Linked DNA regions of Homo sapiens. The protein of the gene in region 3 purifies or fractionates together with the protein of the main gene of each other region. This does not show direct contact. Each region holds a gene or a part of one and is shown on either strand. Other genes may lie near its edges. The genes, in order: ACSL6, SEC62, SLC35F1, GOLGA5, HACD2, SPTLC2 and SURF4.

Region 1 (4,110 bases), on a different chromosome or scaffold from region 3:
GAGAGAGGAAATATACCTTCAGGTATTGCAGTCTTAATGCTATGCAACACAAGAAAAAGGACCAAGGGGATTTTCCTTAACATTTCTTTAGCATCTGCTATCAGCCAGAGCCGCACTGGGCATAAAACTTCAAGCAACTCAGTCTACGTGGGGGTGGGGCAAAAGGACCATCAACCAATCAACCACGTGGGAAGCTTCTCAGAGAAAAGGATGCTGGAATCTGAGTTTTAAAAGATGAATGGTTGGAGTTAGGGGAATTAGAGGAAAGGGCATTCTAGGAGAAAGGGACTATATGTGTAAAGGCAGGTAGGCACAAGAAAGTATGATGCTTTTAGGGAACTACAAAAGTAATGAATATGATTGGAGCCGAGGCTCCATAGAGGAGGGAGTAGAAGAGATGCTAGTCCCTGTGTGCTGAACCAGCGAGTTTGAAGTTTATCCTGGAAACTATGGGAAGTCACTGAAGGACTATTAAGCAGGAAAGTGGCATTTTCAATCTAGATTTTCAATTTAGAAAGATTGCCCTGGCTGAAATGTGGATGGCGAAATTTGAGGATGCTGGAATGGAAACATGAAGGCTAGTTAAGAAAGCACTGTAATATTCCAGACAAGAGATAAGGGTGGCACAAACTACACTAATAGCTGTAACAATAGGGAGGAATGGATGATAGCAAACATATGGAGAAGGCAGAATCTGTCTATCTTGGACACAGCAGAATTCATTATTTTAAGAAATTGTATCCATTATTCTGAATATGAGTAAAAGACATGGAAATTATATTTTAAAGGCCACCATCATGGAAAATTTGAAGACAGTTATTTGTTATGTATTCATAAAAATGATTTAAATCCAGGAGATATCTGACAATAGCAAAAATTCCAACAGAGGCTTGAGCAAAGGAGCTCTTCTCTGGATGGACCATAATTTCTTGGAGTTTGTGGAACTTTAACAGAGGACGTAGAGTACGGATGTAAAGTATACTGATTGGTAATGCAGCTTGGTACTATGTTTATCATAAGCAGTAACTGTGATTGATAATTACCAAATATACTCACATGAGGGTATTATATTATGCAAATATATAAAATAGTAATTATAAGCAACTTTGAGAAATGAAAAATCTTTTATTTTTTACAAAAATTTTCATAAATGCATTTTATATTTAATATGCATGCTACTATAACAAAGCAACTGAAAATGTAATTACAGTTAAGATACTTTTATGCATATTTAAAAAGTAATATTTTAATCCCCTCGATTTTTAAAAATTGAAAGTGGAATAAGCAATTCTTCAAAAAATATCCATTCTCCCCCATGCAACTGTTGCAATGATTTAACAAGGAAAATTAGAATAATCGGTCAAATGAATGTTTAAAAGCCACTGTCACCTCATGAAACCCTTTCCATTTGGTACCAAGTTTAGAAATGCTCACATTTCAAATATTTATCTACTGCCTCTGTGTTACAACCACTAATGTGTTCTAACTGAAGAGTTTCTCATTTGGGGTATTGACCTTACTTGAATGCTAACCCACTTCTTATTGCAGTTAATTGTAAATTCATAGAAAGTATTTTCTAGCATACTTGAGAGGAAATTCAGACTACTAGGATCCTTTTTTCTTTTCATGTAAATGCTTCCTTAAAATTAAAACCGGCAAGGAAATACAGCCAATTTATAGTTTACCAATTTTATATACGGTTATTCATTCTTTTTTTCCTGAGATATTAAGCACATTTGTAAGTAGTCTGTTTTCATGCAAAAATATATTTTCCCATTCTTCACATTCATTTTAAAGTATTTTATATTTTAAATAACTATATTGCATTTGTGCTTCATACATTTGGAAAATAAAGGATATTTCATTTTCTTTACTGCAGAAAAAGGAAAGGTTATTGGTTCTTTGATAGGTAATACAATCAAATTAAGTGCTGATTTCAAGTTGCTAAAACATTACCTGATTGGAAAAAATTCCAATGGAAAGTTCTATTTTTTCTCATACTTGTAGTTTTAACTACATGTAGAATGAAAGCATGACTTGCATAAATGAAGGAGACATAAAATGTTTAATCCTTGGATTTCTGAGTTTATGAGTTCCTAATACATGGGGCTAGGCCTACACACTATACCTGACCAGAGTCCCGTCTCTCATTTGCAAGGGAAGTCTCAATATTATATAAAGACATCTTCCACAGCAAAAGGAAAAACAGATTTGGTATATATTTTATAATATACACAAAAGGATCTGTTTGCAAAATATGAGAATTACTAATACATTTGAATAACAGATAAAAAGGCCAAACATTTAAGAACATATTTACACTTAAGGAACTGATTATCTGTTATACTTCTAGGCTTAAATAGATCCAATGCCCAATATGAATGTGACCATCGTAAGTACATCACCTTTTTCTATCTCTGTTAATGAGAAATACAGATTTTTTTCTCCTCCAGAATAAAGTTGGGAAATCTGAAGCAAGAAGGATTTTTCCACTGATACATAGGGTTTCATTTCTCATTTCTTACAAAATTAAGTGGCATTAAACAGAGAAATAGATAAATGTACATGCAAGATATTTAGGGTACACTATTTACTTTTCTCAGCACATCTGAACTAACCCATTTATTGGCCCAAGTGTGATGATTTCCACATAGACCTGGAAATCTAGAAATATAAGATATTTTAAGTGGCAAAAAGAAGAAACCTTGTTTTTGTTTTTTTTTTTTCTTTCTTTTTGAGACGGAGTCTCGTTCTGTTGCCCAGGCTGGAGTACAGTGGCGGGATCTCGGCTCACTGCAAGCTCCGCCTCCCAGGTTCATGCCATTCTCCTGCCTCAGCCTCCCGAGTAGCTGGGACTACAGGCGCCCGCCACAACGCCCGGCTAATTTTTTGTATTTTTTTAGTAGAGACGGGGTTTCACTGTGTTAGCCAGGATGGTCTCGATCTCCTGACTTCGTGATCTGCCCGCCTCGGCCTCCCAAAGTGCTGGGATTACAGGCATGAGCCACCGCGCCCAGCCAAAAAGAAGAAATATTAAGTTGTCCATAATCTGTTATATCTAACTATTATAAAGTATAAATAAAACAAAATAAGTTTTACATTACTTGTTTCTGTCACATTGTTCAAAATTCTTTTGGGCTTAAAGCCAACTATGAATTTTAGTTGAGTAGGAGGACAATGGGAAACAGATTCTTTTTTTGTTGTTATTGAAATGTAAGCAACTTGCCCTTAAAATAGTATGAATATCCAGTTCAGGTAACAACTTTCACTTTTAATTAGTCAAATATATATTAAATATAAAAATCTAATGCTGTACAGATGTGACTTTGGACATTTTAAGTATTAGTTTATTCAGAAACGCCTTTAAAAATCAGTGTGTATAGAACTAGCTCATTTCTTAACTGTCAAATTTAGAAGTGCAACAGTGGGTCTTCAGAGAGAATATGCCCAAGAAAAACTGGATAAAAAGACTGGGTAAATACATCAAATGAAACAGTGATTCACTTTTGACAAGACTGAAATATAAGTATATAATCACTGATGCATATTTATTCAGTAGGCCCATGTGATTATGTGGTTTTTAACTAACAGCATTTATTTTTGCAAACTGCTTGGCATTCCTCCAAGGGAAAGGAGCTTCTAGACTACAAACACTGAGCACATACATTTTAAATTAACACATGAATTGCATATGGATTGTTGATATGCTTTTAGAGTCTTGTCTCTACAGAAGAAAAACACGTTCCTGGGGTCCATGCCTTTTTCAGAGGCACAATCTATAGCTTGGAACTTAATTGCTGTCCATGGTATCTGGCCTTTAATTATAAGAAATTGTTGACACCCCAATACAGGGTGCATCTAAATACATAATGCAAGAAAGGAGGTTTTAGTGGTTAAACTTCGGCACGCTTAAAGATTTTAGGAATGTAATTATGCCATTAGGCAGTATTTCTTTGTCTATGGACTTAAAAAGTTTTCTTGGGGCATTTTAAAGAGGTTTATCAAAGTTATATTGTTGAAAAACTATTTTCCCTGGAAATAATGTCCCCTCCTTCCCACCTTCTGCCTTGATATTCTTACTGGAAAAAAAGTGAAATTGTTCAGAATTAC
Region 2 (4,424 bases), on a different chromosome or scaffold from region 3:
CTTAACCTACAATTCACAGACCTCTAAGGGATTCACGGATAGAATTCAGAAGATACATGAACTTGGATGGGAAAAATTAACTTTAATTTCACTAGCCTAAAACTAAAATTTAGTATTTCCTTCAATGACGAGTGCAGACAACAATCCACAGTTGTACTAGCAGTAACTTTGTCAACAGAAATCAGGTATTTTCATGTTACATCACAGTTGTTGCAGATATCTAATATATGTTTTATGCTACTTCAACATCATAGCAGTTATTACATCCACTCGTAGATCTGGCTATTAAATGCACACCTATAACTACCACATCATAAATTATTTGGTAGCTTACACTTCAGTGTAATTCGTTTCCCTTGTAACCCCATGCATTTCCTTTTCTGCATTTAAAAACATTATTCTGGCCAGGCATGGTGGCTCATGCCTGTAATCCCAGCACTTTGGGAGGCCGAGGCAGGTGGATCACCTGATGTCAGGAGTTCAAGATCAGTCTCGCCAACACGGTGAAACCCTGTCTCTACTAAAAAATACAAAAATTAGCTGGGTGTGGTGGCATGTGCCTGTAATCCCAGCTACTTGGGAGGCTGAGGCAGGAGGATCACTTGAACCTCAGGAGGCGGAGGTTGCAGTGAGCTGAGATTTCGCCACTGCACTCCAGCCTGGGTGACAGAGTGAGACTCCATCTCAAACAAACAAACAAACAAAAAAAACCCATTATTCTGAGGAGTCCATGACACAAAAAAGTTAAAGTGATCTAGGAAATCATTGAAAATGAAATAAGACCAAAGTGTGATGATATGACCCCCTTGAAATTTAACTTATCTTTCCCTCTTTCTGTCATGCTAAGAAGAGATCATAGGCCTTTTGGACAATCCTAAAACTATAAACCTCAGAAAATATGTCCTCTCTCAGACTGAAATTTCGTCTGATTGGAAAAGCCATGCAATTAAAGTATCAAAGGATCTCTGTGCTAGGTTGGACAAATGAAATAAACGCATTGGGACCTACTCAGAAACTCACAACTAACTGCTTTAGCCATTGGTTTAAGGGCTTGCCAAAGAAGGCAAATTTAAATTAATCTCCTTGTGTAGTTATCTGCATGACATTCACTAGAACAGGATTTTAGTTATCAAAATGCTTACAACATGCTGTATAAAGTTATGAGATCTTTTCTAATGTTTGGTGATAAGGATCTGACAAAGAGGTCAATTCCTCATTGGAATTTTTGTTCCCTAGGAATTTCTCCTTGGTATTGGTCTTGATTCCAATAAGAAACAGATGGTTCTTTACATGAAGATATTATGAGGAGATAAGTATAGGTATAGGCTACCCAAAGAGGAAGCACAGTAGCTTCTGCAACTCCAGGCTAGTAGCAGCAGAACTGACATCATCCTTGGCCAGAAAGGAAGAGTGCAGGGACTGGCAACCTGGAAAGCAGGGAAGGAGTTTGGGAGAAGTGACCTTTGGCTGCTAAGGCAGCCCCCCAACCCCAGGAGAAGAGCCGAGAATAGGCACCCTACCATCCTCTGATCTCTGGCCAGGACACTCCTTGGCCAAACCCACTCAGAAGCCAGGAGGCATAGGAGCCCACTGCTGTGGTCCATTCGGGTCAGCTTTGTGGGCAAGAGCAGAGTGGAGCTGGAGGGGAAAACAAGAGATATCCAGCACATGTAGCAATTTGCTGCCGTAGCACTTAACACACTATTTAATGGTGCAAGAGAATTGTATTTTTATTCATGGTTGTGCCTAGTAAAATTCTGGTACATGGTAAGTGCTCAGTATTACTGAGTGAATGAGCAAAGACCTGAAATACTGTGGAAACAGTAAAAGCAAATTACCACACAATTAGGAGGAATTATTTTCAGACATAGGATATTTAAAACATCACTCAAATACTGGAGCATGATTCAGCAATAAATTCTATTCCATAAACCAGGTAGATAAATGTCACAGCTTTAAAATATAGTTAAGTACAGTTGATCCTCGTTATTCATGGATTCCGTATTTGTGAATTTGCCTAACCTAAAATTTTGTGGTACAGCAAAAAACTTGCTGTACACATATTCTGAGCTGAGGTTGAACAAGGCCATGTTCCAGCTTTCATACTATAAACGTGTCCTTTTTACGCTAATGCCATGGTTTTTGCATTTCTGTTCTTTTTTTGATTTCACTGTTTAAAATGGCCCCCAAGCATAGTGCTAAGGGCAAAAAGCTGTTCCTAAGGGTAAAAAGGCTGTTGTGTGCCTTATGAAGCTTATGTGTCAGATAAGCTTCATTCAGGCATGAGTTACAGTGTTGTTGGTCATGACTTCAATGTTAATGAATCGATTATATTAAATAAGGTGTCTTTACAACAGAAATTTACATGTTGACTGCTTGATGAAAATGTGACCAGTGGCTTGCAGAAATCTAGCCTTGTATTTCCCCTAGGTTCTATATTTGCTAATTCAGTGTTCGCAGTGACTTTATAGAACGTAACTACCTTGAATAATGAGAATCAACCATACTTGCTGTTTTCCAGTTCCTAATAGATTTAAAAAAAAAATTCAATTTACAAAAGACACAAGATGACTTTTCTTGTCAGCAGCTAACTGATCCTCATGATGTAAAACCAGAAAGAGGGGGGAAACACCAAAATTCATCACCACTGCATAATTTCAATGTGATATATTAAAATTTATTACTTCCTGAATAGTATTCAACTAAATCTATATTATTTCAATTAAAGTTACCTAGGCCATATGGTTTGAAAATTGAAAAATCCAGTAAGAGGGAAAAGGAAAAATACCTTATTTAATACATTGACTTTAAGAACAATCACATATGCATTATTCTTACTATCTGAACTTAGCCTCTGGTAAATTCAATCCTGCTTAGTTAGGCCAATTGATACCCTCTACAATAAGCCCTACATGATCAAAAAGCTTCATGCTTTCTACTTACAGCAGCATAGCAAATCTGAAGTTCTTAAAAAAAAATCGCCATTCTATTAACAATTATAAACGATTTTCCATGCTCTGGTACAAGAATATTTAATGTTAGCCAAGAAAGATAGCCATCTATTCCACTGAGGATTGTAATAGAGGCAGCCTTTTGATTTTTATATTTGTTTAAAGTACACAACTTGAATAGTAAAATAGAAACTGAGCTGAAATTTCTAATTCACTTTCTAACCATAGTAAGAATGATATTTCCCCCCAGGGATCACCAAATATTTATAAAAATTTGTACTAACATTCTGTAAGAATCCACACACATCAGTAAGAAGCTGACCTTCCTGTTGGCCATGCTCCAAATGTCTTTAAGACTAGACAAATTACATATATTATAAAAAATTTCAGGATGAATATTGAGTGCCTGGGTATTATCACAGTAATAGTAAAGGTTAATGAAATAATTTTTATTTCTGAAAAACACCATGTTTATACCCCAAAATAGGTATCAATGTTACTGGTGATAAACTCAGAAGTGATCATTATATATATGCTTACTGTGGAAATGAAGTAGTAGAGCTCTGCAAATGGGACGGGAAAATACCCAGGCACTTCATCAATGAACATTTATTTGCTAAAAAGAAACTATTAAAGTGATTGCAGCCTTGACATAGTTGCATTAACATCAAATAGCCACATTTATGTCCACTTACAGGGACTACTATAAAGAAGCAATCAAGCCAAGTTTAATAAAATGTGTCGATACAGAAAACATATTTTTCACAATTAGAAAAATTTAACATCTTTAATTCAAACACTTAGATGAGAAACAGCCTAAAGCAAAGACTGACATACACTACCTATTTCAACCACAAAGCAAGATGCTCTCACTGTGACTGAAGAAAAATCATTTAATATTCATTATTAGTTAGTATAACTCCAAGGAATGATTATGCTCATAAGTAAACAAGAGTTTCCAAAGACTTGTAACTAAGATGTATAAGACGTAAAGTCAAACTGCAAAACTAGTTCAAAGCAATTAGAGTCCAATAGTTCTCTTATGTTTTCTTTCATTATCTTTATTTTAAATTTGATATTTTAGAATAGGAAATTATCTTTCACAGCAATGCCTCCTGGTCTGATAATACAGTATCTCATTTCTGAATGTAAAGATTTAAAATAAATCAAAATGAACATTAAGGCGTACAAAGCTACTTTAAGTCTGCTCTTAAGATCAGTTTTTGCTCATATTCAAAATACATGGAATGTTGGCACAAAACTGAAGCTGCTGTAGAAAGATCACAGATGTTCTGTGGGTTACTCAAACTTCCATTTCTCTAAAAACATACCCTTACATGGTCTTAATTTTATGAATTTAAGTGTTGAGAAATATCTAAATAATAAGTAACAATTAAAATAAAATGTTTTATTTGTAAATTATGTACAGAATACACTTTACGTTACGCCAATGAAATGGGGAGGGAGGAGGGA
Region 3 (4,424 bases):
TTAAAGCACTTCCTTGCGTCTTACTTGGTTTCTCTTATCTAATTAGAAAAACAAAATGGATACCATGGAGCCAAAGAACAGATTCAAGTCCATGAATGCAGAATGTGAGGCAAAGATACCCAATTAATGATAAATTTCTGGAGGTGTATATTTTCTTCTTGCCTAATAATCTTCTTACATATAAGTCTAATTAATGCTTGAATGTGATAAAAACCTTTCAGCAAAGAGCTTATAGAAGTCAATGGCCTAACTTCTGCAAACAAGAATCTTGTCAAAGAACATGGTAGAACACGCTTCTCCCACTTTCAAGGGGTATTGATTTTAGTCCAGGCAGTATACTTAGGTGTTCATTATGTATGCATGTTTGAATTCATATGCTGACTCAGATCTGACATGACTTTCCTGAGAATAGTTATCAGAATGAAGATGTCGCCACAGAAAAGTTGATGTGCTGTAATTCAAGATGATAACATAATTGTTTCACTTTTGTGGCAAAGAATTACAAGCAATATGATTATGTAACACTATGTTGAAATTCTTCATACCTTTTAAAAGAATGTATTCTTATAACTAAGAGAAGAAAACAAGATTAAGTTTATGCTTTATTTTAAATCTTACTATTTTGAATATCTAATTTGTAACACAAGTTTACTCTCAAAATTCTAAAGTCTGTTTCTTTAATAGAACGAAGTGCCGGTGGTAATGGTTATGTCAGTCTTTATGAATACAAGCTCTATTATAACAGGTATTTAGCTTCCAGCAGCACTATTTTTCTTGAGACTCATGCATTTTTCATTGTCTAGTCATTCTGAGTTTAAAGTGGATAGGATGTCCTTTTAAATGCATAAACAAAGAAGATGAAAATGTGTATCATAGTCTCCTCTCCATTTCTGCCACTAAAATTATAGGAACTATGTTTCTTATGTTAGAATGCATCTGGTGTGTTATTCCATATACTACATGAATAACCTACAGCTCGCTGTACAAAATTCCAACCGGCACCATATTTAGCATCATTTTTGCAAGATAGCACCTTACCAGGCTTGTTCTGAAAAGCACCAGAAAATAGCTTATTAATCTCAATGTCTAACTGGCAGATGGAATACAGTAAAAAACAACATGATTTTTGTCTTTCAGAGCTAGTAGTTTTTCAAGGTAAGATAAGCAACCATCTTCCAAATCTAAGACTTTGCCATTTTCATTTACAGATATTTGTTTACTCATAAATTTGTTCACTCTTTCATCCTGTGTTTATTGAGCATCTGTTTTCTTTCTGTCCAGCAGTCCTCAAGGCACTAGAAACAGAAAAGAATAAAATACATTCCCTTCTTTTCAGGAGCTTATGAGCTACACAATATGGTGAGTGCCAATAGTGATAGGGAAATGCAGGTGAGGACACTTGCCTCACCCTTGGGAGCAGGGAGTGGCTAAACAGAGGGTCTCTGAAGAAGACATTGTCATAAGGCCATGAGGAGTTAGGTGAAAGGACCACAGATCTACCATAGCAGTTATCTAAGGAAAAAATATTTAGAAGGGATAGTGCAACAGTAAATGAACTAAAGAGATCCTAAGGCAGAGAGAGCAGGGAGAACATTTTTGTACAACACATCGCCAAATGGATTTGTCCTGTGCTAATAGAGAACGAAAGAGAATTTGATCAGGGCAAGATGGCAGGGCAGGGGGTATAGTTAGCAGAGTGTCAACATTTAGGCATTTAGGTTTATTTCTATTTTTATTTACTGATTTATTTGGTGACTCCAGGAACTAGCTCAGATGTGCAGGCTGCAATAGCTACAATATCTAGCTCCCTGCAGTAGGAAAAAGACTCATGAACTAATCTGATAAAAGGTTCCTTTCATTCCTTCCGGTTTTACATGTCGTGCTCATTAGCATGACGAATAAAACCATAATTTGTATTCTCCATCAAATCACACCAGCAGCAGCTGAATGACATGGCCATTAATTAAAAGCAGAAATTGAATACAGCAGACTTGATGTTTTGTTTGACTGAAGAAACAAGAATAGATTTGTATTGACCTCTTGTTGAAAGGCACACATTACAGATATCTTGATGGAAGAGTTTTCATCAGAGGGTCAGTCCCAAACTTGTTTTTGTCTTTAACTCCTCTAGAGTATTTCTGGAAACCAACCACTTAGGTTTCTAGCTGTAAGTTCTTGCACTCAATCAGGACACACAGTATATTTTTGCCACCAAAATAGTAGTATAGCATAATAATTAAAAAGTTGAGATTTGGAACCACATAACCTAGTTTGCATCCAAACTCTTCCCCTTGTTAGCTCTGTGACCTTGGGCTGCTTGCGTAACTTCTCTAAGCATCAGTTAACTTATCTATAAAATCGAACAGTAATAATAGCTGCCTTATAAGGTTTTTATGAGGATTAACTAAGATAGTATGTGTAAGTCTAAGCTCATGGCTTGGCACATAGTAAGAACTTACTAAATATGAATTATTATTGTTGTTTTAGCTTAATCGGCTCCATTTTGTACTAAGTTATTTGAGGACCTAGCTCCCAAATCTTAGTTTTGTAGCTCCCCAGTGACAAGGACTGTGTCTTGTTCATCTTTGCATGCATAGTGTGTGACATATAGAATGCTATTTTATACTATATTGGCGCATATACATAAGAAAGACTAAAATTGTATTCTCTTATATAACTAATCTGTCATTTATTTGTGGTGTGATTTTGTTCAGGAAAGGCATAGCATATTGCCAAAGTTTTTGAACACTATAGTTGTAATTTATAGAACTGCAGGAATCCATGTCATAGCAATAATTTTCACCCTTCTTGTCCCAAAGAGATGCACTCCATACACAGCATTCTCCAGGAGACATACTCAGCATCAAGAACAACTCTTATATATTAGTTGTAACTCTATTCATATTTCTTCCATTTAGGAATGTAAGTTATTATGCAAATAATCAAGAATGACCCAGTGATAGGATAAGCTAAATTAATTTTTAAATCATTTTAAACATTATTATTTTAACTATCATTGATATTATGTTACATGGTGACTATATCAAATTCCTTCCATGAATTTTTTGAATTCTTCAAAATTCTGCAAAGTCAACATCTCTAATTTCTCACCATTTCCTTTTCACTTAGTCACTACTAGCTATCCCCTCCATGAAACTCTCTGTTCTCTTGGTTTTCATGACACCAATACGGCTGTTATTCTCCACTCAACCAAAACTCTTAAAGGATGGCAGTGACTACAAATTATGTCTTGTCAGTCCTCATTCTCTCTACCCTCTAAGCAACATTCAGTATTACAACTATTCAATCCATGAATGTCTCTTTCCTTTTGGTTTCCTTAACACCAAAAAACTCTCTTGCTCTTCCTCTTAGCCTTCTAACCACTTCCGACTCCAGTGATGTGCTTCTTCTCCCTCACCCACCTCCAACCTTGGGATTCTGCAGATATTTCCCAAGGCTCTCTTACTTTCTCTCCTACTCTCCCTTTCTTAGGGATATTATCCATTTCCAGTATTTTCACCATCACTTTTATGAGTATAACCTCTGCATATTTATCTCCTGGTTGACCTCCCTATCCCACTCTGATCCCATGCTACTAATGCTGCTGGATCATTTGGAAGTTCATCTGGCAACTCAAGTTCAATATACCTAAAATATGTATTGTTTCTCCACTAAAACCAGCTCCTTATCATTATTTTTGTCAGTAGATATTATACTTATCTTAGGCAGTCTTAAAAACCTTTAATTTTTTATAAGAGGTGGGGTCTTGCTCTGTAGCCCAGGCTTGAGTACAATGGTGGAATCATGGCTCACTTGCAGCCTTGACCTCCCAAGCCCAAGCAATCCTCCTGCCTCAGTCTCCCAAGGAGCTGGGACTACAGACATGCACCACCACACCTGGGTAATTTTTTTAATTTTTTGTAGAAATGAAGACTCACTATGTTGTCCAGGCTGGTCTTGAACTCCTGGATTCAAGTGATCTTCCTGCCTTAGCCTCCCAGAGTGTTGGGATTACAGGTGTGAGCCACTGCGCCTGGCCTTTAAAATCGTTTGAGTTAATTCTGGTACTCCTTTTTACCTCTACCTTTCTTTCTTTCTTTTTTTTATTAATCACCCCCTTTATTTCAATAAACTGTTTCTTGTTGCCTACGCCTCCTCTGCACTGTCTTTGAATCCCTCTATTTTCTACTTCCTCTGAATGGTACTGCCTGGCTGTAGACACAGTGAAGAACATGGTACAGGCATCACAGTCCAGCTGAGGCGAGAGGTATAAAGGCATTAGTTTCAATACAATGAGATAGAAGTAACAAAGAGATGCATTCCAGGGAAGAGAAGACGGAACACTTCTCAAAGGGAGTGACATAGAAGCCAAATCTTGAAAGATACATAAGAATCAGACTGGCAAAGGCGCAATGAACTTTTTG
Region 4 (3,500 bases), on a different chromosome or scaffold from region 3:
AAGCTTACTAAACTGGAATTTTCAAGATGGGTCTGGGAATCTGTTTTTTAAGAAATTTCCCAGGTGAACCTGGTCACTTGGATACTAGGTCTGGTCTGATACTAGCTGATCAACTGTTTCCAATTTAATAAGTAAATAAATAGGTGTAAATTACACCATATTTTAAAGAACCAGTATTCAAAAAATAATGTAAAATATCTCATTAATAACTTTTAATATTGACTACATATTGAAATAATTAATACTTTGGATATATTGTGTTAAAATTAAGAGACACACACTACCTGATATTTACTTTCAGGACTGAATTACTTTCACCTGTTGAAAAGCTAGCCCAGACCAGTGGTTTGCAACCCTGACTGCTCATTAGATACACCTGTGAACCTTCTAAAACCAAAGTGTCAATACCTAGTCCCTACCTCATACAATGGAATGTGACTGCATATGGAGCTCAGACAGCACAAGGTATCACACAAGTGATTCCCACGTGTAGACAGGGCTGGGACTGAACTAAATGCAAATATTCATCTAAGAGTAAAACTCTTTACATATTACATACAATTTTCTCCTGAAATAAATGAGCCAGATTAATCTGGAATCAGAAAAACTTAAATTAATAAAAAACAAATACGATCCCCCAACCATTAGCATTTAATCAAATAATGACAATGATTGTTGCAAAAATTAAGTAAAAGATGTATATCTCTAATGCACATTAACTATTTTAATTGTCTCTCAACACATAAAATTAAATACATTTAGCAAGGATCAAGCTAAATTTTCAAATATCTGATTTTTGTCACAGAAACAGAATTTTCTGAAATGCATTGCAGAATTATATTAGACAGTTAATGTGCTATGAAACAGCATAAAGTCATTTTTTCCGTGTCCAAGTAACAATAGGAATCTGCTGTCTCTCATTCTAACCTGCATCTGTTTATAGCTCTCCTGCTCTCTCTTCAGAGTGGCATCCGCTTCATGCAGTCTCTCCTGAAAAGTCTGCAGAGCTTGATTCTGCAGGCTGTTACCTTCACTTTGATCCTGCATTATTCTAAAGGAAAATGCATCATGTGAAATAACTCATGTCTACAGTGTACAAGTGATAAGGCAGAATAATTTTTAGAGCGTCAGCTTTAGTCAAGCACAAAAAAGATAATTTGACTGAAATATTCTTAGATAAATCTTTCCTTTCTAATGGAACATAATCTACATTTTTAGGCATCCAAATATTAAGTACATACCGTATAATGAAAGATTAATGACACAACAAATGCTTTTAAATTCAGAATTTGCTAACAATGCATCTCAAGGTTCAAACAATGAATCCATTTTATGTTGTTGTTGTTGAGATGGAGTTTCGCTCTTTTTGCCCAGGCTGGAGTGCAATGGCACAATCTCAGCTCACTGCAACCTCCACCTCCTGGGTTCAAGTGATTCTGCTGCCTCGCCTCCTGAGTAGCTGGGATTACAGGCATGTGCCACCACCCCCGGCTAATTTTTTTTCTGTATTTTTAGTAGAGACGGGGTTTCTCCATGTTGGTCAGGCTGGTCTCGAACTCCCAACCTCAGGTGATCCACCTGCCTCGGCTTCCCAAAGTGCTAGGATTACAGGCTTGAGCCACCACGCCCAGCCAATGAATCCATTTTAATCATACACATTTCTAACACTACCAAAAGAAATATTCCCTCTTGTAAATTTCCAAGAAAGCTAAGTTTCATAAGTGGATACACTACAATGTTTACCATTACTTGCTCATTTTTTTCATTATTCATAGAATCACCTACCGTGATTTTTCACTCTGTAAGGCTTCTAATGCTTCTGTGCGAGTACTCAGTAGCTGGTCAGCTTCCTGGAGTCTCACTTTCAGTACAGCCAGCTGGGAATCCTTTGCAGCCACAGCTTCAGTCAGGTCATCTACTTGGGCTCGGAGTCCTCGAGTCATTCGATCACTCTTTGAATGGTCAGCATTCCACTTTTCAACTCTTGCTCTTGCTTTGTTTAATTCTATTAAAAAATTTAAATTTCTCTATACAAGCAAAACCAAACACATTTTTCTCAGAGCACGTACAGTTTCTACTTTGAGTGCCTTTAGTACTTTCCTTATTGACAAAATTGGGAACTTACACGTCTTCAATTTTCTTTGCCCCAAAGGGTCATCCACTTTTCAAGGGCAATATTCACAGCTAGATTATAGTTAATTGATTAGAAAGGGGCGTGAAGCTAGCTGCTCTTCTACAATGCTGTTTCTATATGATAAAGCATCTGGGAGCCGAAACTAGTATTAATAGATAGCAGAGTATATTTTGTAAAGTTCTGCTAGTGACAGGGAAAGGAATGCAAATCCAAATCAAAGGTACATCCTAGTAAGAACAAAACAAAACCTAAACACAGAAAAGAATCTATTGCTTTCAATTACTGTTGCAAAAAGATGTTATTCTTTTGACCTAGGAAATCAATGCAAAAAGAGCAAAGTAGTGCTCTATTTCAGAATACAATGGCATTTCCATACCCTCACATACCATATGTAATTGCAGTTAGCCACCACAACATTTTAAAAATACTGAATCAAACTTTATAGGGTCTCAAAGCTTTTTTTTTTTTTCCAGTGAGACACACCTTTCTTAAAGAAAAAAAAAAAAACCCAAAAACATGAGACAGAGCCTCACTCTGTTGCCCCGGCTGGAGTGCAGTGGCATGATCATGGCCCATGACTCACTGCAACCTCCAACTCCTGGGCTCAAGCAATCCTCCCACCTCAGTCTCCAAAGTAGCTCAGCCTACAGGTGTACACCACCATATTCAGCTAATTTAAAACAAAAAAAAATTGATTTTTGTAGCCCAGGGGTCTCACTCTGTTGCCCATGCTGTTATTGAACTCCTGGCTTCAGCAATTTTCCCATCTCAGCCTTCCAAAGCGCTGGGATTACAGGCGTGACTCACTGTGCCTGGCCAAACAGCTCTATTTCTATGTCTAAATTAGTGTGGGTAAAGTAAAGCTTTTTCTAAAGTCAGCCTGACTAGTGAGTACTTTGTTTTTGTTGTTGTTGTTGTTGTTGTTGAGACGAGTCTCGCTCTGTAGCTCAGGCTGGAATGCAGTGGCACGATCTCGGCTCACTGCAACCTCCACCTCCTGGGTCCTGGGTCTGGGTTCAGGCAATTCTCCTCCCTCAGCCTCCTGAGTAGCTGGAATAACAGGCACGCGCCACCATGCCCAGCTAATTTTTTTGTATTTTTAGTAGAGACGGGTTTCACCATGTTGGCCAGACTGGTCTTGAACTCCTGACCTTGTGATCCGCCCGCCTCGGCCTCCCAAAGTGTTGGGATTACAGGCGTGAGCCACCACGCCTAGCTTAGTGAGTCTTCAACTATCTTCCCTTTCCTCTCTTCTAGGCTCTATCCATGGCTTGGCAAAACTTTTCCCACCATCCCCTCACTCCTTTCTAATTAGCCCCAGGAACCAAGGCAGCAATTTTGTCACTCGTTTTCTTCTCAGCCACAC
Region 5 (4,424 bases), on a different chromosome or scaffold from region 3:
TTAAGTAGCCAACAATAAAAATATCTGTAGTTTTGGTTTTAACATGCTATGCCATTGTGTTCAAATAAGAAGTAATGGCATGTAAATGCAAAAACAGTGGGATTGACTGCAAGAAGTGCCAGAAAGAAAGAGGATCTATCTGCCAGGCACATGCCTGTAATCCCAGCACTTTGGGATGCTGAGGCGGACAGATCACTTGAGCTTAGGAGTTCGAGACCAGCCTGGGCATCATGGCGAAACCCTGTCTCTGCTAAAAATACAAAAATTAGCTGGGCGTGGTGGCACATGCCTGTTGTCCCAGCTACTTGGGAATCTGAGGCAGAAGAATGGCTTGAACCCAGGAGGTTGAGGCTGCAGTGAGCCATGATTGTGCCACTGTACTCTAGTCTGAGCAACAGAGTGAGACCCTGTCCAATCAAAGAGAGAATCTAGTCTGTCTTGTCTATCTATATTCCACATTCTACAACGATTTGTGGTAGCTCATACACAAAATATCACACTATAGTATGCTTCAGATCTAGCGTGAAGGTTTCTGGCTACCAAGTTAAAGAGGGTGACAGAGTTATATAATTCTTATTATTGGAAAGGAGCAAACCTTTCTTAACATTGAGCTCTAAAACAAATTTCCTACCTGTATGAGAGGCTTTGAGTGATAGGGTGGACATTATACTGTACACCATTCCTACGGCAAATAAGGTAATATTAATACTGTTTGACAGTCTTTTTTTTTTTTTTTTTTTTTTTTTTGAGACGGAGTCTCACTCTGTCACCCTGGCTGGAGTACAGTGGCACGTTTTCGGCTCACTGCAAACTCTGCTCCCGGGTTCAAGAGATCTCCTGCCTCAGCCTCCCGAGTAGCTGGGATTACAGGCGACTGCCACCACGCCCGGCTAATTTTTGTATTTAGTAGAGACGGGGTTTCACCATGTTGGCCAGGGGCCAGGTTGGTCTCAAACTCCGGACCTCAGGTGATCTGCCCACCTCAGCCTCCCAAAGTGCTGGGATTACAGGCGTAAGCCACTGTGCCTGGCCTTAGTTTCTTATGAAATTCACCTGATAATAATGATAAGCCCAACTTGGTGATGCCAGCTCTGTTCAGAGCTGAGATAATGCCCATCTATGTGGCCATCTGTTCTTTAGCTTAAATTCAGGGATAGAGCTCTTGGCCTTTTGACTGGTCCAGTAGAGCAGGCATTTCGAGATTGTGCTGTCAGGTGAGGGCCTGAACTGCTGTTTGCTGGGTGACTGGTTGAAGTAGTTGTCTATGCTACAGAGAAACTAAGTGACAGTTGGTCTGAATGACATGATTTGGGGAAAATTAAGGTGTCTAAGTAGGCGAGTTCACTGGATAGAGAACGGTAGAAGCACCTGCAGGCAAGGCCAGAAACATCTTGACATCTACTTCAATTAGAAAGTATTGATCAGCTTTTTGTTCACTACTTATTAAGATTTAAATTTACTGCCAAAGGTGTGCTAAGACAGGCACTTTTGTATATTGCTGGTGGGAGTATAAATTGGTAATAAACTTCTTAGAAAGCAGTTTGGCAATACATTTCAAGAGCCTTAAAAACATTCATGCCATTTGACCTAGTACTTCTACTTCTGGGAAAATGTCCCAAGGAAATAATCCTTTTTTTAAAAAAAGGTCTAAGCCTCGAATTTTGAGTGTTATTTGTAATGCTTCATTACTTCATTTATAGTATCAAGAAATTCGAGGCAATTTAAATGTCCCACAGAAGGAGAATAAACAAACATATTAACTCAAAGGAATATCATGATTTAAGCTAAAATCTTTTGAAGAAGAGAAGGAAAATTCTTAAAATGTTAAATGAGAAAAGCAAAAACAATATAAACAGTAGAAGTTAAACTGGTTTAAAATATGCTTAGAGGAAAAGACTGGTGAGAAATACACTAAATAAATCGTTGTGTGTGTGTGTGGATACTAAAGCATTTTTAAGAAAAACACTGTTGACCAGGTGTGGTGGCTCACTCACACCTGTAATCTCAGCACTTTGGGAGACCGAGGCAGCGGGTGGATGACCTGAGGTCAGTTTCAGATGACCTGAAACTCCGCCTCTAACAAAAATACAAAAATTAGCCAGGCATGGTGGTGCATACCTGTAATCCCAGATACTCAGGAGGCTGAGGCACAAGAATCACTTGAACCTGGGAGGCGGAGGTTGCAGTGAGCCAAGATTGTGCCACTGCATTCCAGCCTGGGCGATAGAACAAGACTGTCTCAAAAAAAGAAAAGAAAAGAAAAACACTGTTAATTTATGTATGGCATTTTTGAAAGGGAGACAAATACAAATTTATATTCCCTAGAGAAGGGTGATTTATAGTGGAGAGGGAATAATTAATAAACCTGTGTTCAGCTGAATTGCAGTTTTTGCCCCTAGACCTTCTAGTTCCATTTGTTTAAAGTTACTCTTAGCGCCTGTAATCCCAGCACTTTGGGAGGCTGAGGCGGGCAGATCACGAGGTTAAGAGATCGAGACCATCCTGACCAACATGGTGAAACCCCGTCTCTACTAAAACCACAAAAATGAACTGGGCATGGTAGCGCGTGCCTATAATCCCAGCCACTCGGGAGGCTAAGGTAGGAGAATCACTTGAACCCAGGAGGCAGGGGTTGCAGTGAGCCGAAATTGCGCCATTGCACTCCAGCCTGGGCGACAGGAGTGAAACTCCATCTAAAAACAACAACAACAACAACAAAAAGTTACTTTAGCTGGGCATGGGGGCTCACGCCTGTAATCTCAGCATTTTGGGAGGCCAAGGCAGGAGAATTGTGTGAGCTTAGGAGTTCGAAACCAGCCTGGGCAACATAGCAAGACGTTGTCTCTACAAAAACTTTAAAAAATTACCTGGGCAGGCCGGGCGCAGTGGCTCACGCCTGTAATCCCAGCACTTTGGGAGGCCAAGGCAGGCGGATCACAAGGTCAGGAGATCGAGACCATCCTGGCCAACATAATGAAACCCCATCTCTACTAAAAATATAAAAATTAGCCGGGCATGGTGGCTTATGCCTGTAACTCCAGCTACTCGGGAGGCGGAGGCAGGAGAACCCCTTGAACCAGGGAGTTGGAGGTTGCAGTGAGCTGAGATCGCCCCACAGCACTCTAGCCTGGCGACAGAGCAAGACTCCGTCTCAAAAAAAAAAAAAAAAAAATTACCTGGCACACCGTGTGGTCCCAGCTACTTGGGACGCTGAGGCGAGAGGATGGCCTGAGCCCAGGAGTTTGAGGCTGCAGTGAGAGATATGATGGCGTCATGTACTCCAGCCTGGGTGACAGAGTGAAATCTGGTCTCTTTTTTTTAAAAAAAGAAATCCTTTAATTCTCAGTTCTTTTCTTTTTACTTTTTGTTTGTTTGTTTGTTTGAAATCAAAGAAATCAAAGGCTTCCTCTATATGGGTGCTTTCCTTACAGGTGCCTAGGTAGTTATTGCTTCAACCTCATTAATCCCCCTCTCCCAGCAAAATGAAACTTAACATGTTAATAAGCAAAATATGATTTTCAAAATAGGTCTATTATAATAGAAATATGGAAGAGTACAATTCTGCCATTTTCCTAAATATTAAACATTATTTTACAAGAATGGCTTAAAACATAAGCCTTGTTTTGCAGTATATGAGCTTTCCATCTTCAATATATTTTTTTTTTTAAATTGGTTTCTAGAGGAAATCCACAACTGCATATTGTCCCATCTAAGTGTGATCTGGCTAAATATATTCACTAAATGTTTGACTTACTAATTAGCTCTGTTAGCTGTATTACACAATTATATAACCAGGTTTTATAATTCATTTATACATTTATTTATGTATTTATTTACTTTTACTCATTTATTCTGAGACAGGACCTCACTCTGTCACCCAGGCTGGAGTGCAGTGGCATGATCACAGCTCACTGCAGCCTCAACCTCCCAAACTCAAGCAATCCTCTTGCCTCAGCCTCCCTAGAACTGGTACTAGAGGCGTACGCTACCATGGCGAGCTAATATGTTTTTTATTTTTAGTAGAGACAAGGTCTCGCTATGTTGTGCAGGATGGTCTAGAACTCCTGGACTCAAGCAATTCTCCTGCTTCAGCCTCCCAGAGTGTTGGGATTACAGGCGTGAGCCACTGTTTCTGGCCATTTATTTTTTTAGTAACAGCTTTGTTAAGATATAACTAACTGCCAGGTGTGGTGGCTCACACCTGTAATCCCAGCACTTTGGGAAGCCGAGGCAGGCGGATCAGCTGAGGTCAGGAGTTCAAGACCAGCCTGGCCAATATGGTGAAGCCCTATCTCTACCAAAAGTACAAAAACTTAGCCAGCGATGGTGGCACATGCCTGTAGTCCCAGCTACTTGGGAGGCTGAGGCACAAGAATCACTTGAACCTGGGAGGTGGAGGTTGCAGTGAGCTGAGATTGCACCAC
Region 6 (4,424 bases), on a different chromosome or scaffold from region 3:
CTGGCCAACACGGTGAAACCCTGTCTCTACTAAAAATACAAAAAATTAGCTGGGCATGGTGGCACGTGCCTGTAGTCCCAGCTACTTGGGAGGCTGAGGCAGGAGAATCGCTTGATCCCAGGAGGCGGAGGTTGCAGTGAGCCAAGATTGTGCCACTGAACTCCAGCCTGGCAATGGAGTAAGGCTTGGTCTCAAAAAAAAAAAAAAAAAAAAATCTATCAAAGCTGATTAAAAGTCACTGAAAATGAGTTCTCTCTAACAGGCAATCAAGTATTAAAAGAATGACCTTTTTTTCTGTGATAGGGTCTTGCTCTGTTGCCCAGGCTGCAATGCAGTGGTGTAATCACGGCTCACTGCATCCTTGATCTCCCAGGCTCAAGCAATCCTCTCATCTCAGCCTCCCCCATAGTTGGGACTACAGGCATGTGCCACCACCACACCCAGCTAATTTTTTTACTTTTTTGTAGAGATGAAGTCTCACTATGTTGCCCAGCTGGTATTGAACTCCTGGGCTCAAGTAATCCTCCCACTTCAGCCTCTCAAAGTGCTGGGATTACAGGTGTGAGCTACTGTGCCCAGCATAACCATTCTTTAATACTCCGAATATTGAGTGGTGAAGCAAAATTAAGAACATTTATGAGCACCTCCTCTGTGCCATATACAAATACCTGACATACATTATTTTTTCCCTAACATTGCAATCAACGTTTAAAAATAACAGCTTCATTGTGATATAAGCCACATACACAGAATTCACCGTTTTAAAGCACAATTCAGTGGTTTTTAGTATATCCAGAGTTGTGCCACTTTTACCACTAATTTTAGAACATTTCCATAACCCTGAAAGGAAACCTCATACCCATTAGCATTCACTTTCCATTTCCCTATCCCCTCCGCCTCCGGCAACTACTAATCTACTTTCTGTTTCTATGCTTATTCTAGGTATCACATATTTTAAAACATGCAATATGTGACTTTTTGTGACTTTTTTCACTTACCATAATGTTTTTAAGGTGCACCCACGTTGTAGCATGGACATATATTACTTTTTAAACCCTTACTACAATCTTACAAGCTGGGCATATTTATCTCCATTTTACTGACAAGGAAACTGGGAGGTTAAATGTTTTCCCTGAGGTCTAACAAAGTAAGCCGAGAAATATTCAGACCCAGGCCTCTGTCTTTATGGTTCACCATTTCGACCACACCACAGATTCTTACCTGCATCAAAATTCACCGTATGATTTTTTTCTGACTACAAAGACCCAGAAAAGGCAACTTCATAGTTTAAAAATTGAAAAATACAATGCTTTGTAGTACCCCACAGCTGGCACAACTTTTTTGCTTCCTGTCTCCATGTTCACTCATGATATATTTGTGTCCAAGGGCAAGGTGACCTGCTATTCCCATGGGCTCCCATGACAACCCCACTGTTTTTGAAACTGTGAGCACAATGCAAACCCAACAGAAGGCTGGGGCGGGCAGGGAGCACCACTGTGTGTTCTTTCACACAAGAGGGTATTCTATATCTCAGATCAGCATGTAGCTTAGAAAGAAGCTCAAATAAGAAAACAACAAACAATGAACAGAACCAGCCTTTAGTTCAGTGAGGAGACATTAGAGTCACTCACTGGTATTATGAGCCTAAACCAGAGGCAAATTTGCGGACATCCCAGTTCAGGGCCCCATCTGCTAGGCCTGAGGTACCAAATCTAATTGCCAGTGACTTTATCTCTAATCGCTCATTCTCATGGCTCGTTTACCTTCTTGCCTCCAATATATCCTCCAGAAGCACCAAAACTCTTTGTGAACGTTCCCATCATAACATCCACATCCTCGGGATCCAGGCCAAAGTACTCCACCACACCCCGGCCTGTGGGGCCCAGGGCGCCAATGCTGTGAGCCTCATCCAGATACAAGTATGCCTTGTATTTCTTCTTGAGGGCAATCACTTCAGGAAGACGAACAATAGATCCCTCCATGCTGGCAAAACATGAAAAAATATATATATACACATATACACTGAGACTTTTTAAATCAAAATTGGGAGTTTGGCACTTCATTATTATTGAGTTTACTGCTTCTTTTTTTTTTCTTGGGACAGAGTTTTGCTCCATTGTCCAGGCTGAAGTGCAGTGGCATAATCTCGGCTTACTACAATCCCTGACTCCTGGGTTCAAGCGATTCTTGTGCCTCAGCCTCCCAAGTAGCTGGGACTAGAGGTGCCCGCCACCACCACGCCCAGATAATGTTTGTATTTTTAGTAGAGATAGGGTTTCCTCATGTTTCCCAGGCTAGTCTCGAACTCCTGGCCTCAAGTGATACACCCGCCTTGGCCTCCCACAGTTCTGGGGTTACAGGAATAAGCCACCCTGCCCGGCTGAGTTTATTGGGTTTTAAATGGTCTGACAACTGTATCTGTGGCTTAAACTGACAAAGGTAGATGAAGCCATGGCAAGGCAAAAGACTAGGGGAAAGAAAACTGGACTTTTAAAACAAGCACTGGCTGGGCGCGGTGGCTCACACCTGTAATCCCAGCACTTTGGTGGGCTGAGGTAGGCGGATCACTTGAGGTCAGGAGTTCGAGACCAGCCCGGCCAACACAGTGAAACCCCGTCTCTACTAAAAATACAAAAATTAGCTGGGCTTGGTGGCACACACCTGTAATCCCAGCTACTCGGGAGGCTAAGGCAGGAGAACCGGGAAGCGGAGGTTGCAGTGAGCCGACATCCCGCCACTGCACTCCAGCCTGGGTGACACAGCGAGATTCCATCTTAAAAAAAAAGCCACCCAAACCACCAAAAAACAAAAAACAAGCACCAAACACAAGCAATCTTAATTCACGACAAAAATAATTAAGGTCACAGCAGATTCTTCTAAAGCTTGTAATTACAGGCAACATGAGACTTTGCATCACGTTGCACAGGCAATTAAAATGACACAAAAGAACAAAAAAAATTAGGTGGTAAAAATACGTGTAAAAGCTGTAAAGGTTAACCAAAATAAAATATTTCTTTTTAATTTTTATTTATTTTTTACAGAGACAGGGTCTCACTATGTTGCCCAAGCTGGTCTCAAATTCCTGGCCTCGAGCGACCTCCCACTTTTGCCTCCCAAAGTGTTGGGATTACAGGCGTGAGCCACTGCACTCAGCCTAAAATAAAATATTTATTAAAATTAAATGGTGTGTAATTTGTTTTGACATATTAAAATATATATTCCAATTCTTGCCCCTACATATAGGTTCCCTCTACAAACTAGAAAAATAAAAGACTCAAATAGAAAGGGGATTTGGTGACCATGTAGTATTATGGAAAGAATAACGAAGAACTAGACAAAAAGACTTCTGTTCTAATGCTGACTCTGTTTCCAGGTATTTTAGCGACTTATAAACACTGTCTCCTTAGTTTCCAGAGGGGGATAGACTAATGTTCCCTTCAGTTAAAAAATTCTATGACTTCATGGGGCCAAGTCACAAAGGTAAGAATAATAAAGCAGGATTACCTATATATTCCTTCCACAAGGATGAGAATTTTCTTCCAGGGCCTTCGTGTCCGAGGCTGACCATAAACAATGGCATCTTTCAATAGCTTCTCTAGGCTTTGCATATCTACAGAGCACAAAAAAGAACAGTTATACCGCATCTTCCTCTTTCCTAACTTTATTCCGGAAATGCAGAGATATATTTCTCATTCAGAAACCATGCCTCAGATAGCAAAGGACATAATTAGAGTTGGGCAGAAAAAAGCAGGGCAAAATAGGTGAATTATTGCCACCTTGAATTGAAATCCAAAATGTAACAAATGTTCAAAACCATCGAAACTTGACTAAAGGACGGTGGTGGCTAACTCAGTTCATTAGCTTCCTTATAAAATGACCAGTGTCTCATGTTAAATACCCTGCCATTAAGTTAGCTTCTGTGTGTTTATCGAAAAATACAGAATCAAACTGTATCTCTAATCCCAGTGAGTCATTCGGAAATAAATGCGTAAAAAAGACAGAGCGAGAGAGTGTGAATAAACCATCACAGACACATACTCCTCCTAAAAAAACAAACGCAAGGCGTAAAAAAACTTCACAGTGCGTGCTCCATTTCCTTTCACCCAGGACGTACTCAATAAACGCTTGTTAAAGAGTTTTATTTTGGTACTGGGTTAAAAATACACCCGTCTGGGGCATGTATAAGTCTGTGTGTTAAGCAAGCCTGACAATCAGTTGAAATTGTTCCATGTTTGACTTCATCAGTTGTCCATAAACAACCAAGTTCTTGTGGCTCTGTTGGTTCTTATGGTGGTTAATGGGCCTGGAAACAACTTGGCTGCTACTGCCATTAATGATGATCATAATTTCCTTGTTAAAGACAAATGCTTTGAAGACCATTGTTGCCACACTACAGATTTCATACTTAAAATACCTGCCCTGAA
Region 7 (4,424 bases), on a different chromosome or scaffold from region 3:
TCACCCTCCAGCCTGTCAGGTGGGGCCCTGACTAGGTCAGCACTGCAGATTGGCTCCCATGTGGCAGAGAACGGAGGCAGAGATTACAAAGCCAGGTGGCCATTCTCCCCAAACCCACTGCGCCCTGCAGTGTCAGTTCTGCACACATTTACTCAGCCTTTGACTCCACGGAAGTGATGGGAGAAATCACAGTGACCGACAGATACCCAGAGAATCACCAAGTGGGTTTGGGAGATGAAGTGCAGGTGGAGGTTCTGAGGCCCTGTGATCTCATCCTGCCCTGGTACCATCCAGCCAGCACACCGTGTGACCTGGACACGCCCAGTTACTTTTTTGAGAGTGTCTCTACTATCCTGCAGTAGAGTGAGGCCACCTGAACTAATGGTTGGTAAGATGCTTTCCAACTTTACTAGGAGGAAGACCTTGTTTCACTTTTTATTTTTAAAAAGGCCCCAAATACTCCCCTGTGAATTTTAGGGCCAATGCAGAGAACCAGCACAAGATGCCCATGTGCACAGTGTGACGCAACCTGCATCACACTGGGTGGTGGGAAAGGTGACGCCACACACCCTCCCCAGGTTCTGCCTCATGGCCCCGTTGCTCTCTAAATGCCCAGCAACAGTGTAATCACCCATATTCCATGGAAGAGAGAAAGCACACCACCGTGGCACACGATGTGCCACTGCTCTCAAGGAATGGCCTCACATCGTGGCCCAGCTGGGAAGCCCCAGCAAGGACACAAGCCTTTATCTCATCTGAACCTGGGGAAAAGCAACCACTGGGAAGGAAGAGCTCAACAGGAGGCTGTCCAGACCTCTGAGATGAGACGGAGCCGTGGTGGGACTCCCAGGGCAGGGTGTGGGTGTGGGGCGTGGACCCCAACAGCAGCAGAGAGGTAGACTGCAATCCATACCCAAGACAGACACCAGAGGTGTTCTGACTTGCTTCTAAAATGAGAGCTGTGAGCCACTCACTGGCCTGAGATGAGCAAACCAGCCCAGCCATGGGCTGCGGTCTAAGCCTCCCCCAGTTGCAGGACCTGCATTTAACATGCTCATCTACGTGCACAGCCCACGAGATTGAGGCAGTGTTTAAAAGTCTCTTTGAATGAGTCTGCGACTCTTAATTTGAGTGTCTGGGTCAAGAGGATTAAAGAGCAAAAAAGAGAGAGAAGGTGGGACAGGCAATTCACACCTCCTTCCCTGCGCAAACATGGTGACGAAACAGACACAGCTCTTGGCTTTGGGGAAAAATATGCAAAAATCTAGGTACTGCCTTCTGAACTGAGCACACCTACTGCTTGGCTGTCCTGGTTTTCAAAGGCAAGCCTGGTCCACACTGAAGGCTGAAGTCAGGCTGATGCAGTCTCCTCTAAACTGGCCACCATTTAATGAGCATCTGTTTGGACTGAACACTGAAAAAGCCACGTTTAAAGACAAGGCCCAACATTAACCTTATTTCCTACATGCATGTTGGTCACAACTACTTCAACTTGGCCACTGGAACCATGTCATGCCACTCTAGAACACGTCCCAGAGCCAGTGTCCCCTCAGCACAGCAGAGAAGAGCCCTCAACACAGGCAGGACACACAGCACCCCAGGACAGACAAGAGCAGCCGCACTGCAGGCACTAAGGCCATTGCTGGTAGCCAGCACACAGGTGACCTGTGTAAACACGGCGAGCACATAAAACTTGTGACAGTCCCCCTCCCCCCCATTAGAGAACTGCGACAGCAGAGCCAGAGGTGGCTGTTGACCTGGCAGGCTGCAGGAAGAAGATGACAGTTAGCTCACCTCTGTGGCCAAGCTTCTCATTAAGTCTCTCCGAGAACCGCGCCATCAAGCAGGATATGGTTCATAAGCAGTGACAGCATCTGAGGGGCTTAACAGGAAGACTGATATTTCTCTCAAAGGGGTGGTTATTTTAGACGACTGAAGGGGATTTTAGAAACGTAATTAATTATATCCACCCTGAGATGACTTCCTGGGCATCCAGTGATCACTGTCACAGCCACCTGCAGCTCCCACGCCACACAGAAAACTCCACTTTCTCTTCACACTCAGGACAGAAAGAAATTGAGGAAAGCAGCTTGCAAATTCGTGGTGAATGTGAACATCGACGAAAAAGGCAGGTCAGATTTCCTTGATCACCAAGGACTGGGGCTGCCTTGTTCAAAGCCCAACTCAGGTCCCACACATCCTAGAAACAAGCACCTGCGGCCCAGCGGCTTCCCTCACATCAGCCTGTCAGAGCTGGCTCGAGCTCACTGGCTCACTGCAGCTCCAGAACTTCCCCGAGCCCCGCTCCCATGCTGCTCTATAGGTTCACACTGCACCCTGCAGGGCCAGAAAGGATGTCGCCAGCCCAATGTGGGAGATGATGGCCTGGCTTTACTAAAAAACTGTGTGATCAAAATCCCAACTATAGGAAAGACGTAACTGAGAACGACTGGGCCCCATGTTCTGGGAGGAGCCCCGCTAACCACAACCTCCTCTGCTCCTCGCCCGCACTCCCCTGAAGAGTGAGTTTTAACCTCCCGTTAAGATCATCACACAAAGAAAAGTGAGTCAGCTCCTCTTTGCCTTCTCTCCCCACTCCTTCATGATATAGGGCAGGGTATGACAGAGCCTGCCACTGTCACCAGGACTTTGCCACACCAGTCACCAGCATGGTGTTCATCGGGACCCTCACAGTGCCTGTGCCACCTGCAAGTTCAGGGGTCCTCAGGCCTATCCTTGCTTCCCCAGCACTTCAACTAGGGCCGAGGCCAGCTCCTAGGGCCCAGGACTAGCTCTGCCACTCTTGAGGACAGGTTAAAAACACCAAAGGTCACACTGGAGAGGAAGGCCCCATGCAGCTTTTCTGTCACCTTGGTGATGAGCCACCAGGCAGAACCCATTAAGTGCTAATATTGCTGTTTATGGGTATAAACTGCTTAGAAGCTACATTTTACAGAGTGTCTAATAGGCAATGAGGAGCAGCTGCAGGCATGGACATTAGTTTGGATTGCTGAGTTCATTAGTTTCTGGACCCTTCCCATGGCTTCCAAATGCCAAGCTCCTGCATAGAGCACGTCTCAGCAGTTTCTACAGAGCATGGCTCCTGGGAGCAAGAGGACACTGTCCCTGGCTGCCAGAGCAAGCAGCTTGATGCCAGAGGCAGAGAGACAAGAGATGCAACTGTGGGGAGCCTGCCAGCAGAAACTAACCAGACTGCTCGTCCCCGTGGACCAGCCTCTGCAGGCCAGAAGGAAAGATCAGTCAACCAAGCAGTGAGGAACCCAGCCTTTGGGGTAACAGGATGCGGACTCAGTCTCCAGGCCACCACAAGCCAGTGCGGCCAGCCAACCTCCCTCTGCCCATCTGAAGATGGTGACGCTCTGGCCAACCTCCTACAGTCAAGAAGTTCACAAAAGGAATGTCTATCATGGACCCGGCCCAGTGAAAGACTTAATGTCATTGTCATAATACTGGAAGACACTGGGCCTGGGAAACTAAGCTTACTTAGGTCTTGCTTTCAGCAGCCCACACTTTCTGGTCAAATCTTGTCACTTCAGTTTTGCTCTTGTTTTCTGAAGATGTGAAAAAATGGATGTGTCACTTTATCTGATCAGTGACTTCCATGGTAATCCTCTATCGGCTTCAAATTAGGTCATTTTCATGTAAAAGCCTGGTCTGGCAGCTTTAAGTACTATGTGAATAAAGAGAAACAAAGCCCCACCTGGGCTTGGTCAGATTCTGTCCACAAGAAGCCATATTTTGACTTCGAACCCTGTTTACTTGCCTGCATCTGTCTGATTGGGGTTTGGGCGAGTACAAGTAGCTGCCCTCCCAAGCTGCCCACAAAAGGGCATGGAAGCTCCCACAGCCATGCTCTGCCACCACCTAGACGGACTCTTAAGGAGATCATCTGACGGCGGCAGCCTGCGCTGCCTTACAGATATGGTGCCTTACAGATATGGTCCTAACCCACTTGGGTTTTGTATGTGAGCAGCCCCTTCACCCGCTAGTGCTCTTCCCTTGACTTGTGCCAGAAGAGCAACACCAGGGGCTGGGGGCGCTGGGGACCAAGACCCGGCTTTTCTTGGTCTTGGTCACAGGCAAGTCTAGGAGCCTGAGCAGGTTTGGCCTCCCCTCAGTAACCTGGGAGAGGTCGACTCTGTGCCCCCTCAAGAGCCTTTCCAGTTCCAAGCTACTGCTTCTTTCATTTAAAACATAACAGAATACATGATGAAGGCTGGGCGCGGTGGCTCAGGCATGTAATCCCAGAACTTTAGGAGGCCAAGGCGGATCACCTAAGGTCAGGTGTTTGAGACCAGCCTGGACAACATGACAACATGGCAAAATGCTGTCTCTACTAAAAACACAAAAATTAGCGGGGCGTGGTGGCGTGGGCCTGTCATCTCAGCTACTGAGGAGGCTGA

Evidence for each region.
Region 1: the proteins of SLC35F1 (region 3) and ACSL6 purify together in Homo sapiens (affinity purification with mass spectrometry; one large-scale study listed by BioGRID and IntAct). This does not show direct contact.
Region 2: the proteins of SLC35F1 (region 3) and SEC62 purify together in Homo sapiens (affinity purification with mass spectrometry; one large-scale study listed by BioGRID and IntAct). This does not show direct contact.
Region 4: the proteins of SLC35F1 (region 3) and GOLGA5 purify together in Homo sapiens (affinity purification with mass spectrometry; one large-scale study listed by BioGRID and IntAct). This does not show direct contact.
Region 5: the proteins of SLC35F1 (region 3) and HACD2 purify together in Homo sapiens (affinity purification with mass spectrometry; one large-scale study listed by BioGRID and IntAct). This does not show direct contact.
Region 6: the proteins of SLC35F1 (region 3) and SPTLC2 purify together in Homo sapiens (affinity purification with mass spectrometry; one large-scale study listed by BioGRID and IntAct). This does not show direct contact.
Region 7: the proteins of SLC35F1 (region 3) and SURF4 purify together in Homo sapiens (affinity purification with mass spectrometry; one large-scale study listed by BioGRID and IntAct). This does not show direct contact.

The regions. Positions count from the first base shown.
Region 1 is NC_000005.10:131,948,868-131,952,977, forward strand, and holds the end of ACSL6 (long-chain-fatty-acid--CoA ligase 6), read right to left. Parts: 3' UTR 1,106-4,110; downstream 1-1,105. UniProt on the Homo sapiens protein: Catalyzes the conversion of long-chain fatty acids to their active form acyl-CoA for both synthesis of cellular lipids, and degradation via beta-oxidation.
Region 2 is NC_000003.12:169,993,746-169,998,169, reverse strand, and holds part of SEC62 (translocation protein SEC62), read right to left. Parts: 3' UTR 1-4,424. UniProt on the Homo sapiens protein: Mediates post-translational transport of precursor polypeptides across endoplasmic reticulum (ER). Proposed to act as a targeting receptor for small presecretory proteins containing short and apolar signal peptides.
Region 3 is NC_000006.12:118,147,778-118,152,201, forward strand, and holds part of SLC35F1 (solute carrier family 35 member F1), read left to right. Parts: intron 1-4,424. UniProt on the Homo sapiens protein: Putative solute transporter.
Region 4 is NC_000014.9:92,807,805-92,811,304, reverse strand, and holds part of GOLGA5 (golgin subfamily A member 5), read right to left. Parts: intron 2,006-3,500; coding exon 1,786-2,005; intron 1,052-1,785; coding exon 928-1,051; intron 1-927. UniProt on the Homo sapiens protein: Involved in maintaining Golgi structure. Stimulates the formation of Golgi stacks and ribbons. Involved in intra-Golgi retrograde transport.
Region 5 is NC_000003.12:123,529,157-123,533,580, reverse strand, and holds part of HACD2 (very-long-chain (3R)-3-hydroxyacyl-CoA dehydratase 2), read left to right. Parts: intron 1-4,424. UniProt on the Homo sapiens protein: Catalyzes the third of the very long-chain fatty acids (VLCFA) elongation four-step cycle (condensation, reduction, dehydration, and reduction).
Region 6 is NC_000014.9:77,553,537-77,557,960, forward strand, and holds part of SPTLC2 (serine palmitoyltransferase 2), read right to left. Parts: intron 3,611-4,424; coding exon 3,505-3,610; intron 1,984-3,504; coding exon 1,764-1,983; intron 1-1,763. UniProt on the Homo sapiens protein: Component of the serine palmitoyltransferase multisubunit enzyme (SPT) that catalyzes the initial and rate-limiting step in sphingolipid biosynthesis by condensing L-serine and activated acyl-CoA (most commonly palmitoyl-CoA) to form long-chain bases.
Region 7 is NC_000009.12:133,369,082-133,373,505, forward strand, and holds part of SURF4 (surfeit locus protein 4), read right to left. Parts: exon of another isoform or gene 1,841-4,424; coding exon of another isoform or gene 1,795-1,840; intron 1-1,794. UniProt on the Homo sapiens protein: Endoplasmic reticulum cargo receptor that mediates the export of lipoproteins by recruiting cargos into COPII vesicles to facilitate their secretion.